2 separate regions of the Homo sapiens genome follow, and region 2 is linked to region 1. A link means that fine-mapping ties the variant in region 1 to the expression of a gene that starts in the linked region. Tissue or cell type: sun-exposed skin. Region 1 holds a variant in brackets; the other region holds the start of a gene. All regions are shown on one strand. Distances are from middle to middle.

Region 1 (8,000 bases):
GCAGAATCATGTACAGGTCATACACAACACATACACGTGCACACATGCCATATACACACCACGTGTACACACATGCACCATGCATACACCACACACACACGTGCACAAATGTATGTACACACACCATAGTCACACCACTCATAGATCTCTACCCACACATGCACCATCATGTACAGGTCACACACAACACATACACATGTGCACACATGCCACATACCACGTGTACACACATGCACCATGCATACACCATACACATGTGCACAAATGTATGTACACACACCATAGTCACACCATGCATCATCTCTACCCACACATGCAGAATTGTGTATAGGTCATACACAACACATACGCATGTATGCACATGCCACATACACACCACATGCTCCATGCATACACACACAAATGTATGTACGCACCATAGTCACACTACACATACATCTCTACCCACACATGCACCATCATGTACAGGTCATACACAACACATACACATGTGCACACATGCCATATACCACATGTGTACACACATGCACCATGCATACACCATACACACGTGCATCTACACATACAGATACAGGCACACACACCACCATATACATCACATACAAAGACATCCACTGATATACGCACACCTACATACATGTACACACAGCACACATGCACATACATCACAACACACATGCGCACCACACACCATGTGCACACCCATACACCCATGCTACATGCACACCATACCCCACACATATGCATACACTGACCACAGCACACATCAACCACACACCCGCCAACATAACTCTTTCTCTTTTTTGGGGAGATAGAGTCTTGCTCTGTTGCCCAGGCTGGAGTGCAGTGGCGTGATCTCAGCTTACTGCAACCTCTGCCCCCTGGGATTCAAGCGATTCTCCTGCCTCAGCCTCCTGAGTAGCAGGAATTACAGGTGTGTGCCACCATGCCCGGCTAATTTTTGTATTTTTAGTAGAGATGAGGTTTCACCATGTTGGCCAGGCTGGTCTTGAACTCCTGACCTCAGGTGATCCGCCTGCCTCAGCCTTCCAAAGTGCTGGCATTACAGGCATGAGCCACCGTGCCTGCCTTTTTTTTTTTCTTTTTTTTTTGTGTGTGTGTGTGAGACAGTCTTGCTCTGTCACCCAGGCTGGAGTACAGTGGCACAATCTTCGCTCACTGCAACCTCGGCCTCCCAGGTTCAAGTGATTCTCGTGCCTCAGCCTCCCGAGTAGCTGGAATTACAGGTGCAGGCCACCATGCCTGGCTAAGTTTTGTATTTTTAGTAGAGACTGGGTTTCGCCATGTTGGCCAGGCTGGTCTCGAACTCCTGGCCTCAAGTGATCCACCCACCTCGGCCTCCCAAAGGGCTGGGATGACAGGCATCAGCCACCACCCCCAGCTCCAACAACTTTTTTTTTTTTTTTTTTTTTTTTTTTTTTTTTTTTTTTAAGATGGAGTCTCACTCTGTCACCCAGGCTGGAGTGCAGTGGCGCGATCTTGGCTCACTGCAACCTCCGCCTCCCAGATTCAACCGATTCTCCTGCCACGGCCTCCCGAGTAGCTGGGATTACAGGCATGCGCCACCACCCCGGCTAATTTTTTTGTTTTTGTAGAGACGGGGTTTCTCCATGTTGGTCAGGCTGGTCTCAAATTCCTGACCTCAGGAGACCTGCCCGCCTCGGCCTCCCAAAGTGCTGGGATTACAGGCATCAGTTACTGCGCCTGGCCTCAAAATACTTCAGAGCAATGGCTCTGGACTGTCAGGGCTGGAAAGGACCCTCCTCTCACATGCTGAGCTCCTTGGAGTGGAGGCCAAAGTCCCACAGCAGAGGCCGACTGGCCCACCCAGCATGCCCATCTCCCAGGAGTGCAGAGAGGCAAGCCCTGGGCAGTGGCAGGCACAGGCCTTCTTGACCCCAGACCTTCAGCCTGTCATATTTTGGCTCCTCCTTAGTGAAGGTTGTTGAGGGTGTTTTGCAGAGAGACATGACGCCAATCTTAATTTTTGACAATTTTCCATAGCATGCAGATAATTTGTTTCCAAAACTTTTCATTTTCCTGAAGTCATCTTGATTGGTATCAGCTATTTCCATAAAACGATCGGATGAGTTTTGATGGACAGATCAGGCTTTTGTTTACAACTGTTTTGCTCCTAATCATTCCACCACATCACATGTCATGGACCTGAATTGCGTCAAGAAGACGGGCTTGTCTGTCAGGCCCTGGTGGGCACTTTGATAGCGGGCATGCTGTGCCATGACACGTGTGGTGTTGGGTCTTGCTGGACAAGCTGTGCTGTGTTCAGTGTGCGGAGCCTCTGCTAGATGCTCTCATTTGGGGCACTGGGCCAGTGCTACTGGGAGCACTTCTGTTTTGTGTCACTGACATCCAATAGCATCGTTATGTAGAGCAAACACCGAAGGGCTGCATTTCTTTGTGGGCTTATTCTCGAGAAAACTGGGGGCAGATCCCTCCTCAAGGAGGGGAGGGCCACCTTGGTTTCCAGTCAAGTATTGTGAAAATTATCCAACACTCAGGCAATCCACCCAACCCTGCTGCCCATGTCTGGAGAAGCAAAGTGTCAGGGGTAGTCCAGGCCCACCTGGAGACAGGTCAGGCCCTGCAGAGAAAGGTCTGACAGACGGGGGTGAGGGAAGACCCCCCAAAGGCCTCCAGAGTCCCACCAGGTCTCCAGGTCCTTGTCATAACCAGAGAGGCCCCAGCCCCAGAGGACCAGGTCCCCTGCTCCACTGTCCACAGGGGCCCACCTGCAAGCACACTGGCAGAGCTCAAGACCACACATGCCTGCAAGGTGAGGCCTGTCTGGGCTCTGTCCTCCTGCAGGCCCCAGGCCTGGGTGGCTGGGCGAAGGCAGCTGCTTATGCAGACTCCAGGGGGAAAGCCGCCTCTCATCTCTGGCCGTCCCCAGGACGCTGGATCCACCAATATCTCACCAACCTGGAGAGCCACTCAACCCCTCATTTCACATGTTTGAACATAGAGGACCAGAGGGGTGTGGCCTGTCTAGGAGGTCTTAGGAGCTCGGGTCCTGACTCTGCCACTTACCAACTCTTGTGTGTCCCATGTGCCTCCGCTTCCCCTCGGGACACAGAGATATTGTGAAAGTTAAACAACATAATCCCCGTAAAACACTTCGAGCAGTGCCTGGTATCTGGCCAGCAAGTGATCAATGGTGATCCATTACCATCCTGGGACCCCATCAGAGCCTTCTGAGGTGGAGGGAAGGGCGTGCTGGGGAGCACAGGTGCAGGTCACAAGAAGGAAGTCAGTCCCATAAGCCAGGTATCTAACCCC[A/G]TCCCTGCTCCCCCAAGGTAAGGGCCAGCATCTAACCCCACCCCTGCTCCCCCAAGGTAAGGGCCAGCATCTAACCCCATCCCTGCTCCCCCAAGGTAAGGGGGCCAGCATCTAACCCCATCCCTGCTCCCCCAAGGTAAGAGCCAGCAACGGAGGCCTGGGAGGCTCCTGGGTTCTGGGCCGCAGCGCCTCTGCGAGGTCTGCAGGCTTCGCTCTAGGAGGGGATGGGGGCTGGGCAGGTCCCTGCTCCAGAGGAGGAGGACCTGGGCCTGCGGAGCGCCGCGGTGGGAGTGCTGGAGTCCTGGCCCGTCATCCCCGTCTGCCCCACAGCGAGGACGATGCTGCCACTGTATACCGCGCAGCCGCGATGCTGAACATGACGGGCTCCGGGTACGTGTGGCTGGTCGGCGAGCGCGAGATCTCGGGGAACGCCCTGCGCTACGCCCCAGACGGTGAGTGCTGGGCCTTGGCGGGGTCCCCGAACGGGGAGGACCCCACGGGCTCTGAGTCGCATGCTCGCCTAGGCATCCTCGGGCTGCAGCTCATCAACGGCAAGAACGAGTCGGCCCACATCAGCGACGCCGTGGGCGTGGTGGCCCAGGCCGTGCACGAGCTCCTCGAGAAGGAGAACATCACCGACCCGCCGCGGGGCTGCGTGGGCAACACCAACATCTGGAAGACCGGGCCGCTCTTCAAGAGGTGGGCGGGGCCTCCCCGGAGCTGGGCGGGGCTGCTCTTGGGGAGGTGGGCGGGGTCACTCCAGAGATGGGCGGGGCCGCTCTTGGGGAGGTGGGCGGGGCCACTCTCCAGAGCTGGGCGGAGCAGCTCTCAGGACTAGGCGGGGCCGCTCTTAGGGAGCTGGGGGAGCGCTCCTCAAGAGATGGGTGGGGGCACTCTCGGGGAGGTGGGCGGGGTCGCTTCCAGGAGGTGGGCGGCGTCGCTCTCAGGGGTACTGCAGTGGAGCCTGCTGCCAACATCCTCTGGACACTGTTACTTCTCTCCTCTCCCCCCACACCCCCAGCACCACCACATCTAATGGCACAATCATCTGCCCTCTTCTCAACACTGACACCAGTACCTGGGCCGTCACTGGAGTGGGGACTGGCTCCACTGCCTCCGCCCCTACTTTCCACACTGCAGCCCACCCTGAAACAGCACCCCTCTCCCTGTGTGGCTGGCAGCCTTTGGGAGGAGGCTCTTGATGCAGATGGGGACTGAAAGCTTCCAGGGACCCAGGAGGCCAGACAAGCAGCCCAAGAACAGCACACGAGCCTTAGACAGCCAGGGTTGGCCAAGGCCCAGAGACCCAAGTGAACATCTGCAGTGTGGCAGGAGTTAGCTCACAGCACGCCTGGACACCATGCCATGCCAGCTCACCCCCAGATCCCCAACCACTGAGTAGCACGTGCAGAGCCACCATCCACAACGCCCACATAAGTGCAGATGTAGGCAGCACGTGTGCACACACACGACACACATACACAGAACCATGTGTGCACACAGACTCAGGCACATGACACACATGTGACACAAGCACATGCATGGGGTGCACCCCACATAGGGATCACGTGTGCACACAGGTTCACTGATGTGGCCCGATGGGTACAATGCACACGTGCACACACAGCCGGACAGGACAGCCTGGTGGTTAGAGCTGGCTCAACCTCGCCTTCACTTGCTGGCAAGAGGGCAGGCATCCTTCTGAGCTTCTGCCTCCGTCTCTGTAAGGCAGGATGGTTCTGAGGACAACGTCCTAACCCACAGAAAGCCGGGTCTGGCACCCATAAACCACTCAGCTGTCATGAACCACACCGTCCATCTGGTGCAGGCAGATACCACGGTGTCCAGGGTCTGGCGTCTGCTGATCTTTCCGTTCTTGGGACTGGGACAAGGGAAAAGCCCAAGCTGCTCAGCCGGCAGGAGAAGGAGCAGGGAGAAGGAGCAGGGGGAAGGAGCAGGGAGAAGCAGCAGGGGGAAGGAGCAGGGAGGAGCAGGAGAAGGAGCATCTCTGAGAAGCCTCAGCTATGCTTCCTTCCCTAGAGTGCTGATGTCTTCCAAGTATGCGGATGGGGTGACTGGTCGCGTGGAGTTCAATGAGGATGGGGACCGGAAGTTCGCCAACTACAGCATCATGAACCTGCAGAACCGCAAGCTGGTGCAAGTGGGCATCTACAATGGCACCCACGTAGGTGGGGGTCATGAGGGGGTGGGGGCTGGGGCCTTAGGGTCCTGGGGCCAAGACCCCTGCGTGGCCACCCTCCATCTCATACTCCCACCCCCAGGTCATCCCTAATGACAGGAAGATCATCTGGCCAGGCGGAGAGACAGAGAAGCCTCGAGGGTACCAGATGTCCACCAGACTGAAGGTGGGGGCCCCACAGACCTCCCTCAGTGTCCCCACCCCAGACAGCCCATCCACCCCCTCTGGCCTGAAGGAGGAGGGTGCGGTGAGGTCAATGAAAGCCACTAAAGGAAGTGGGGGTGGGGCCTGCTTCCCCTGGACACCGTCCAGCACACCTGGCACAGCACAGGAAGCAGAGAGAACAGGAGGGAGGAGAGGAAGCTGCCCCCATCCCACAGGGGGTCTCCAGTGCCCCTCTTGACCCAGCCCTACTTAAGTCTGGGGCAGTTAGTTGTCTGACAGGACCCTGCTGGGGAAGAGCAGATGGGGGACAGCAGGCAGACCTCAGCTTCAGCACTCGCTGTCCCCAGTCCTGGTCCTCCACACCCCTCATCCCTCCTCCAGCCTGCATTGCTCTTGATGGGACCGGGTCAAACTGTCCTCTTCCACCGTGTGGGACAGCCCTTCCTGACTCCCCTGGGCCTCTGAGAGCCTCTGCCCTCGCCGGCTTCCTCCTCCAGAACATCTTTCCCTTGGCTCCCTACTCCAGGGTGCTCTCCTGGCCATTCCTCCCCGGGCAGAGCCACACTACCCCCACTCCACACACACTCCAGTCCTGGTAGCATCACAGACCACCAAAGGCAAGGACCTCACAGGCGACACGCCCACCAACCTTCTCTCGGTCATTCCAAGCCCTCAAATGTCTCTTGACCCTGTCTGTTTTCTGAGCCCACCCCTGAAGCTTGGTGTCAGCCCCTGTGACCTCTCACCCAGGCTCCCTCCCCTGCTCTGCACCGGCCCCTGTGGCCTCTCACCCAAGCTCCCTTCCCTGCTCTGCAGACAGGGTGGGGTTTTCCAGTGCCAGTGTGGGTTTCATTGCAGCCCAGACACCTCACACTGAAAAGTCTGAAAGCAGCGGTCAAACGCTAATGGCCAAAAGGCCCCATCTAGGCTGTGAGATGGAGATGGCTTTTTACAAATTTGTTTCTGGCCTCACTAATTTTTTAAAAATACTAGCATATATATTACCTGTATAACAGGAAAATGTAATGAAAGTTTTATAAAGCAAATCAACTTCTTCAATGGCTCCTGATTCCCCTGGGGATAAAAGACAAAATGCTGCCTGGAGGCTGAGGGTGGGCGGGCCTGCCCCCCTCTCAGGCTCACCCTGCCTAGGACATGCCGGGAGGGTGCCTCTCCCACCACCCCCACGCCTCCCTGCCTTTGCAGTTCTGGACTGCAGACTCCTCTGCTCCACCTGCCCTCAGGCACCTGCTTGATCCCTGCCCACCTTGAGGGCTCAGCTCTGACACCATCTCCCCTCACAGTTCTGGCAGTGTGCTATGCTCTATTCCAGCCCCCTGTGCCCCAGATCCCTTCCCCACCCCCATGCCATGGTCCCTTGAAGGACAGACAGGAGGGCGAGCCCAAGCAGGAGTGTGGGTCGAAGAGGCCACGGCGCGGTGGAGCACGTACACACGGGCAAGAGAAAGGAGCCAGAGACCTACATTCAAAGCCTGAGGGCTTCGGGACTGGGGGCCGGGACAGGCAGTGCGCCGGGATGAAGGGAGGCACGGGTGGGTGGCCCCACGGGTCCCAGGTCCTGTGCAGGTGCAGGGTCGGCTTTGTGGACATGCCCCTGTCCTCGTGGCACAGCAGGGTGGGGGTCAGCCTGCAGGCTGGGCTGTTTCTCACCCCAGGAAGATGCCTGGCATACACGGGACATCAGCGGCTCCTCTGCTGGAGGGAATCATGTCTTTTTTTTTTTGAGACAGAGTCTCGCTCTGTCGCCCAGGCTGGAGTGCAGTGGCGCGGTCTCCGCTCACTGCAAGCTCCGCCTCCCGGGTTCACGCCATTCTCCTGCCTCAGCCTCCTGAGTAGCTGGGACTACAGGTGCCCACCACCACGCCCGGCTAATTTTTTTGTATTTTCAGTAGAGACGGGGTTTCACCGTGTTAGCCAGGATGGTCTCGATCTCCTGACCTCGTGATCCGGCCGCCTCGGCCTCCCAAAGTGCTGGGATTACAGGCGTGAGCCACAGCACCTGGCGGGGAATCATGTCTAAGCCAAGACTGGAGAAAAAGTGGCCAAGAGAAGGGTCCAGCTCTCCAGGAGTCTTTTCTGAGCCCCCAGCCCCCACCCCCCCGGGGCTGCAGGCAGACGATGCTGACGGTGGCTGGGGAGGACGTGTCCTGAACACTTGGGCTCGTGAAGAAGCTCCAGAGAGGGGCAGTGGCCGGCGGCGCAGGGCGGGGGGTGTGAGGGGTGCGTCGGGGATTAAGAGGGGCGCCAGGGGAGGCTGGGAGCTGAGAAGAGACTGCCGCCCTGGGCAGCCTTAGGT
Region 2 (8,000 bases), 43 kb before region 1:
TCTACCTTGTGGAGCACATGGCATACCCGGCCTGTGTGGGGTGCGCCGCGTCCCCAGCCGTGTCTCCGAGGGTCCCGCTCCCACAGCCTGCGTGTGGGCCCCACAGACAGGAAGGACGGGACATACATGGCCAGGCCTCCAGGCGTTTATTCAGCCCCTTCCCTCTGCCGCCAGCTGCTTGAGTGAAGCCCCCACTCCATGAGGAGCCTTGAGACCCCTCCAGTCCTGTGCTCAGAGGCTGAGTCTGGGCCCCCCACGCAGAGCTGGCTGCTGCTCACGCCTGGCTGCCTTTACCCACTCGCCGATGATGGTGGCCTCCAGCTTCCGCGCCTCAACCACGGAAGCAGGATCTTCTGGGTGGGAGGCTCTGGGGAGCGGGCACAGAGGGGGCCCGTCAGCCCCAGCCCTCGGTGAGCCTGTCCCGCCCGACCCGCGACCACCGCCAGGCCACCTCCCTCCGCACCTGAGGTCGAGGTGGTGCGCTCCCCCCTGGATGGTGACGGCGATGACTGAGGCACTCAGGTTCCTCCGAATCTGTGGTCAGTGGAAAGAACTCCATCAGGTGAGGAACGAGGCAACTGCCCAGCCTCCGTGGGCCCATTGGAGAGGAGACGTGAGAGGGCGAGCCGAGACTCAGTGCCCATCAAGCAACCAGAGAGAACCAGCCAGAGACGGAGGTGGGAAGTGACGAGATGATGGGGGCAAAACCGGGTGAGACAGGAGCAGGGAAGGGGCAGGTGTGAGGCCTGTGATCCCAGCACTCTGGGAGTAAGACAGGAGCAGGGTAGGGGCAGGTGAGGGGCCTGTGATCCCAGCACTCTGAGGGTGAGACGGGAGCAGGGTAGGGGCAGGCGAGGGGCCTGTGATCCCAGCACTCTGGGGGTGAGACGGGAGCAGGGTAGGGGCAGGCGAGGGGCCTGTGATCCCAGCACTCTGGGGGTGAGACGGGAGCAGGGTAGGGGCAGGCGAGGGGCCTGTGATCCCAGCACTCTGGGAGGCCATGCGGGGAAGATCGTTTGAGCCCAAGAGTTCGAGACCAGCCTGGGCGATATGGTGAGACTGTGTCTCTACAAAAAAATATTTTTTTAAATTAGCTGGGCATGTTGGTGAGCGCCTGTAGTCCCAGTTACTGGGAGGCTTGAGCCTCAGAGGTCAAGGCTGCAGTGAACCCTGATCTCGCCACTGTATTCCAGCCTGGGCGCCAGAGAAAGACCCTGTCTCAAAAAAAAAACAAACAAACTAACGGGGTCATAGGGCCCAGGCCAGGACTCACCCCGCCCCCTGCCCAGGGGTCCAGGTTCCCGTTGGAGAAGATGATGTTGCTGGCGGCTCTGAGATCTGCAAGGGGCAGAGAAAGTTGTGATGTGGGCCCCTCACGGGGGCTGTGAGCCATGGGCAGGGGGTGCAGAGCTCGGGGCAGAAAGCAGGACGCTGGCCCACCCCCCCTCAGCCTTACCACCCCCCCAGAAGCTGGTCAGCAGCCAGTCGGGCCGGGGCCACACGCCCCAGGTGTCCAGGCAGTACCGCTGGCGGAGCTCGTCAGTGAAGGGCAGGTCCGGGAACATATCGGTCACATTGTTGCTGGCGAAGGTCAGGTTGATCTCGGTGCAGGCCTGCAGGTGCCCCAGCCTGAGTCAGGCCAGCCCACGCCCACCCTTGCCCCCGAGTGGTTCCAGGCCACCCACACCCCCACACCTGGTAGTCCCAGGCCCTGGCGTCGGGGCCGGTGCCGCAGCCAGTGGGGTCAGCACAGCTGTGGTAGAGCCGGTAGATGTCGTAGCAGTGCTCGGAGCCCGAGGCGTTGTAGACCAGCCCTGGGGAGGAGAGGCGCTGGGGCCCAGCGGCCACACACAGACACACCGCGGGCTCCGGCCACCAACCTGTCCCCCCTCGGAATGGTCCTGCAGGGGATCTGGGGCTCTGGGATCTGTAGGTCCCAGTGAGGAAGGCCCTCCAGGCTACCTGCTTGGAGGTCGGCGGTGTCTGTGCTGCCAGCCCCGGGCCTGACTGTTGAGGGCCCCCCCGCTCTCCACGGGGCAGGGTGGGGCCTGCTGCCCTCTGTTGCCCTCCATGCTGGGGACCCCAGGGGCCCCTTGGGCAGCACCCACCAAGCTGGGCCTGGCTACAGCCAGTGCTGAGAGGGTCCCCAGGGACGGCCCCTGCCTCCCCCAGGGTTTCTGGGAAGGTCGTGCTGTCCACCCCACCACAGCCCTGGGGCAGGAGGCAAAGCCCCTGGCCGGGCTGCGGATCCTCGCCCCACCCGGCCCCAGGACCCAAGCCAAGCCTGGGGTCTCCACACTTGCCCATCTGGGGCCGGGGGAAGGGCACCTGCCAGTGCTCGCAGCCCCGTGATCCTCTGGGCCTCACTCAGCAGCCGATCACAGCCCACCTGGAGTGCAGGGGCAGCGGCGACTCAGCGGGGTCCCCTCCACCAGCTCCGCCTCCCTGGCTCCCAGGATGAGGGTCAGGCCGCTGACCACCAGCCTCGGGACACTCCAGCCGGCCTCTCCCTGCGCCCTGGGAGGCGGCGCCTCACCTTGACGGGGTTGGCAGGGAGGGGACCCAGGAAGTCAGTGGGGTAGGGGTAGTCCATCATGGCCAGCACGGTGAAGGCATTCCGGGCGAACATGAAGAGCTGGGTCAGGTCCTTCTCGTCTGACAGCGGCTGGCAGGTGCCGAACTCCCAGCGGACCGTGTCGTAGGCTGCGTGGAAGGGGCAGAGACTTGAAGTTTGGGCATAGCTGGCGCTGGGGCGGGTCAGGCAGTGGGAGGCGGTGGGAGGACCTCACCTCCCTGTAGGAACAAGTCCTTGATCTGTCGGAACGCTTCCCGCACACCCTGGGTGCATTTGGGACTCTGGCCCTCAAAGTCCTGGGGGAAAGAGACCGTGCTGACTGCAGCTGCTGTCCCTTAGGGGGCCTGGAGGACCCCAAGCCTCACTCACCGCCGTGACGTCCCGGAAGAACTGGTTGGAGTCGCCGAGGCCTGCCACAGCTAGAACGGGCGCGCTGGCCGCCAGCGCCCCCGCCACCAGGTGGGGATACTTCATCCTCAGGTAGGCACTGAGCATCCCCCCATAACTGGGTGAGGGACACAGGGTTAGGGCTGCTGCCCCCAACACCCCATTTCCTCTTTTCCTCCTCAGGGGCCCACAGGTGCCACAAGGAGGACGACACTTCTGAGACCCACAAATTCCAACCCTGGGCCAGGTGCGGGTGCAGCTCTCACTGGGAAAGGCCGCTAGTGTGGCCGCACATCCAAGCTGAGCAGGTGGCTGGGAGGACAGGTGGGAGGGCTTCCTGGGGGAGGCAACACTAAGCCTGGAACCACTGCCTGAGGCCTTACGAAAAGGCAGCGGTGGGAGTCAGAGGGGAGTGGGGAGAAGGGCTGGGGGCGCTGGGTCGGGGCAGGGGAGGGAGGGGGTGCGGAGGCCGGGGGAGGCGCCCACCTTCCACCGAAGGCGATGGCGGGGGCATCCTGGGCCCCGAGGTCGCGTCGTAGCGCGCGGAGCAGCTCTGCGAAGTCGGCCAGGGCCTGCTCCACCGTCAGCAGCTCCGTGTGCCCGCGCTGCGTGGACTGCGCACCGAACGGCAGCGACTTCCCGTAGTAGCGCTGGGGGAACGTGCCATTGAGCCCGGCCCCGCGACCCCGCCCGGCACCCGCGTGCCCCGCGACCCCCGCCCGCGACCCCGCCCGGCACCCGCGTGCCCCGCGACCCCCGCCCGCGACCCCGCCCGGCACCCGCGTGCCCCGCGACCCCCGCCCGCGACCCCGCCCGGCACCCACGTGCCCCGCGACCCCGCCCGCGACCCCGCCCGGCACCCACGTGCTCCGCGAAGACCAGTAGAGCCCCCCGCTCGGCCGCCAGCTCCGCGACGAAGGCCGAGTTGTTGGCGAAGGCCCACACGTCGCCCTCGTTCCCAGTGTAGAAGAAGATGGGCCCCTCGCCCCGGACCCAGAACCTGTCTGTGGGGAGGGCGGATGAGGCGAGGGTGCCGGGGGGCGGCGGGACGGCGGGGGCGGCCGGGCCGGGGCCGGGGTCTCACCCGACACCAGGAAGCGCTGAGGGAAGGTCTTGTTGCCGAAGCGCTCGAAGTTGAAGTGGTCCAGACGCTGCTGGAAGAAGCGCTCCTGGAAGCCGGGGTCCGGGGCCCTGCGGGCTGTGGGGGGACGCGAACCTCAGAGGCGGGGCCGGGACCGGGGAATGGGCCGGGGGGCGCCGCCACTCACCCCCCGCCTGGAGGCCGCGCAGCCCGAGCGCCAGCAGCAGGACCGGGGCCCAGGGAGCGGAGCCCATGTCGCCTTCCGCGGGCGCCCGTCACGTGGGCGGGGTCACGGGGCCGCCAGGGCGCGCTCCTCCCTCCAGGCCCCACGTGTTTCGGGCGCCCGCGGTCCCCACGGAGACCGTCGCTGCTTCAGCGCCGCGCCGGGGCTGTGCCCCCCAACACCCCGCGCCCCGCGGCCGCTGCCCAGGGGTCCTTCCCGGGCACGGCGCGGGGAAGCAGAGGGCCCCCGGGCCATCTCCGCGGCCTCCCGCCCCACTGGCTCGTCCTCCTACCGCGGCCCCATCCGGAGCTGCGCTAGGGCGAGTCCCTGCTGCGCCCGCCAAGCCTCCCCAGCACTTGCTCCTGGCAGGTGCCCCACTCCAAGGCAGGGCCGGGAGAGTGGGGGCCGTTCTGCTGCCCTAAGGGCGGGAGGGAGAGGGTCCCAAACAGAGTGCTGGCCCCCCGAAGAAAGCAACCCAGGGTTTGTCCAAGCGATAACGGGCTGGGCTTGGCGGGGCGGGGCCTCGCAGCGGGCAGGAGTGTGGGGTGCCCCTGGAGCGTCTGGGCAGGGCCGGGATGTGGCCGGGTAGCTCCCAAGAGCTGGGAATCGCCACCTGCCCTTCCGACTGGCACCCAGTGTGCCCACACAGCCCTGCAGGGACAAGGGGGGACCAGAGGCCTCTGCTGGGAGCTGGGGCCTCCTCCCTGGGGAGCACCCAGAGGATGGAAGAAGTCACCTTTCCCCAGCGTCCAGTTCAGGGAGTGGGTGAGGGGGCCGTAGTGGTGGGTGCCAGACTAGCTACGTGGAGTCCTGCTGGGGATGTACATGGGCCGCTAGCCAGGCCCAGAACAGGTGCAGGGGCAGCAGGGGCTCAGCTACAGAGAGTTACCCTGTCCTTCTCCCAAGACTACCCTCGGCCAGCATGACCCTGCCCTGCCCATCCTGTGTGGGGCTGAGCGGAGAAGACCGGCCACTTCCACAGCCCCTCACGCCATGGCCCTCCCGTGCCTCACACAGAGGCACCCCCCATGGTGGGTGACTGGTGGCTGGGGCCCTCAGCATGGTGGCAGTGACCATCACGTCACACTGCAACACGAGGTCATCCAGGGCCACACACCGTCCCCACCACGGCCCTCACATCTGGGCCCTGTCCCATCCCTACGCAGTTCCTGGGGCTGCCTGCCGGGGCCCCCGCAGGACGGGGGTGAGGACAAACAGCAGACCTCCTTGGATGTGGAGGTACCCCACGGCGTCCCCCACCCCACACCTCTGCTCCTTTGGCTCCCTCGGGTGCCTTAGGTGGCCAGAACTCCACCAGCAACCCTCACCCAGGACCGCAGCTCTGGAGACGCCAGCTAGGCCGAGAGCTGGCCAGCTCCCCAAGCACACCAGAGCCTGGAGACGCTCCAGGCTTGGCTGGGCCCACAGAGGGGCCAGAGCCTCAGGGAGGGCTCCAGGAGCAGGGTTTCCAAGGAAGCCACTTTCCCTCTTGTCCACGGCCCAGGCATTGATGCCCCTCTGGGCAGCAGCCAGGGCCTCCCAAGCCGGGAAGGGTGGGCATGGGGCTACCCAGCATGGCTCTGCCAGGGGTGAGGGTGGCCACAGTCCCCTGCCCACATCCCTGTGCCCACAGAAACATATGCTGTATGGAATCAAGGTTTAAGGCATCTAGGCCTGTGCTGGTAACCTGTAACCTTAGCCCCATCCCTGTGCCCACAGAAACATGTGCTGTATTGACTCAAGGTTTAGGGGATTTAGGGCTGTGCAGGATGTGCTTTGTTAACAATGTGTTTGCAGGCAGTATGCTTGGTAAAAGTCATCGCCATCCTCCATTCTCCATTAACCAGGGACACAGTGCACTGCGGAAAGCCGCAGGGACCTCTGCCCAAGAAAGCCTGGGTATTGTCCAGGTTTCCCCCCAGTGAGACGGCCTGAGATATGGCCTCGTGGGAAGGGAAAGACCTGATCGTCCCCCAGCCCGACACCCATAAAGGGTCTGTGCTGAGGAGGATTAGTGAAAGAGGGAGGCCTCTTTGCAGTTGAGATAAGAGGAAGGCTTCTGTCTCCGACATGCCCCTGGGAACGGAATGTCTCCGTGTAAAACCCGATCGTACATTAGTTCTATTCTGAGACAGGAGAAAACCGCCCTGTGGCTGGAGGCGAGATATGCTGGCGGCAATGCTGCTCTGTTACTCTGCTACACTGAGATGTTTGGGTGGAGAGAAGCATGAATCTGGCCTACGTGCACATCCGGGCACAGCACCTTCCCTTCAAGCTATTTGTGACACAGATGCCTTTGCTCACATTTTCTTGCTGACCTCTGCTCTGCTGCCGCATTCCTCATGCAAAGATAGTGAAAATGGTAATGAATAAATACTGAGGGAACTCAGAGACCGGGGCCGGTGCGGGTCCTCCGTATACTGAGCGCCGTCTCCTGGGCCCACTGCCTTCTCTATACTTTGTCTCTGTGTCTTATTTCTTTTCTCAGTCTCTCATCCCACCTGACGAGAAACACCCACAGGTGTGGAGGGGCTGGCCACCCCTTCACTGGCACAGCAACCTGACATGTGAAGGGGCCCAACTTCTGCAGGAGGACCCCAGGTCTGCATCGCCAGGGCCCTCGTCAGCCTGTGCAGGGCACAGTAGGTCACCCAAGGGGCAAGTGAGCCTAGGCTGCCCATGCCTGTGCAGACACCCCCGATCTCTCTCTGCCCATCCCCGGAGCAGCACAGACGGGCAGGTTGGCTGCAGAGCCACCAGCTGAGGGGGTGAGAGGTCCCTGGGCAGGGAATCCTGGGAGCCTGGCCAGCAAGGGTGAGAGGCTGCTGAGCCCAAACCCTCCCCTCGAGGTCCATCTGCCCTCTCCAGACCATCTAGGCAGCTCCTCCACACCCCGATTCCTGCTGGGACACCCAGTCCCACCCTCTATGGCTCACAGACTGGGGGCCATGCCCGGCCACACATCACGTCTGTGCTGTCCCTCAGACTGAAAGGCTATCGGCGGGCGGCTGGCCGTGACCTACTGCATCCGCACTTGGGGCCGTGCTGGTCTGTGTGCTGAATTATACATAATATAAAATTGACCACTTAACCACTTCCGCGTGTGAAATTTGGTGGCATTAGGTACATTCCTGCCTTCACAACGCTGTGCACCGTCATCACTATTTTCCACTATCTCATCACCCCCAGTAGAAACTGTAGCCATTAAACAATGGACCCCAGCCCCTGGCACTCACCATTCTACCATCTGTCTCTGTGGCTCTGCTGACTCCAGGTACGTCATATCAGTGGAATCCTACAGCATTTTGTCCTTTTTTTTTTTCGAGACAGAGTCTCACTCTGTTGTCCAGGCTGGAGTGAAGTGACACGATCTCGGCTTACTGCAACTTCCGCCTCCTGGGTCCAGGCCATTCTCCTGTCTCAGCCTCCGGAGTAGCTGAGATTACAGGCACCCACCACCACGCCTGGCTAAATTTTGCATTTTTAGTAGAGACAGGTTTTCAGCATGTTGGCCAGGCTGGTCTTGAACTCCTGACCTCAGATGATCTGTCAGCCTCAGCCTCCCAAAGCGCTGGGATTACAGGCGTGAGCCACCACACCCGGCCTGTTTTAGCCATTGTGAATATTGATGCGATGAACATGGCTGTGAAATGCCTGCTTTTTTTTTTTTTTTTTTTTTTTTTGAGACAGTCTCGCTCTGTTGCCCAAGCTGGAGTGCAATGGCGCAATCTCAG

Evidence for each region. PIP is the estimated chance that this variant, and not a neighbour inherited with it, causes the effect.
Region 2: it holds the start of DPP7, and the variant in region 1 is fine-mapped to the expression of DPP7 in sun-exposed skin (GTEx, PIP above 0.99).

Annotation. Positions count from the first base shown.
Region 1 is chr9:137,153,021-137,161,020 of GRCh38, forward strand. GRIN1 (glutamate ionotropic receptor NMDA type subunit 1) reads left to right here. Exons shown (of 20, transcript NM_007327.4): 5 at 3,649-3,770; 6 at 3,843-4,017; 7 at 5,359-5,503; 8 at 5,601-5,684. It overlaps LOC105376328 (a long non-coding RNA gene), which reads right to left. Exons shown (of 3, transcript XR_007061878.1): 1 at 7,164-8,000; 2 at 6,689-6,757; 3 at 2,002-5,969. Among named protein-coding and RNA genes, the nearest start is that of MIR3621, 12 kb to the right of the region's middle. The variant A/G (reference allele first, on the strand shown) is at 3,319.
Region 2 is chr9:137,110,417-137,118,416 of GRCh38, forward strand. DPP7 (dipeptidyl peptidase 7) reads right to left here and starts at 4,317. Exons shown (of 13, transcript NM_013379.3): 1 at 4,231-4,317; 2 at 4,047-4,160; 3 at 3,827-3,966; 4 at 3,449-3,612; 5 at 2,945-3,080; 6 at 2,790-2,871; 7 at 2,537-2,703; 8 at 2,329-2,389; 9 at 1,696-1,814; 10 at 1,457-1,613; 11 at 1,274-1,338; 12 at 464-534; 13 at 130-367. The coding sequence starts at 4,297. The coding sequence ends at 232. It overlaps LOC124902314 (a long non-coding RNA gene), which reads left to right and starts at 4,383. Exons shown (of 2, transcript XR_007061874.1): 1 at 4,383-6,628; 2 at 6,755-7,362. RefSeq lists silencers at 4,013-4,162, 4,193-4,542.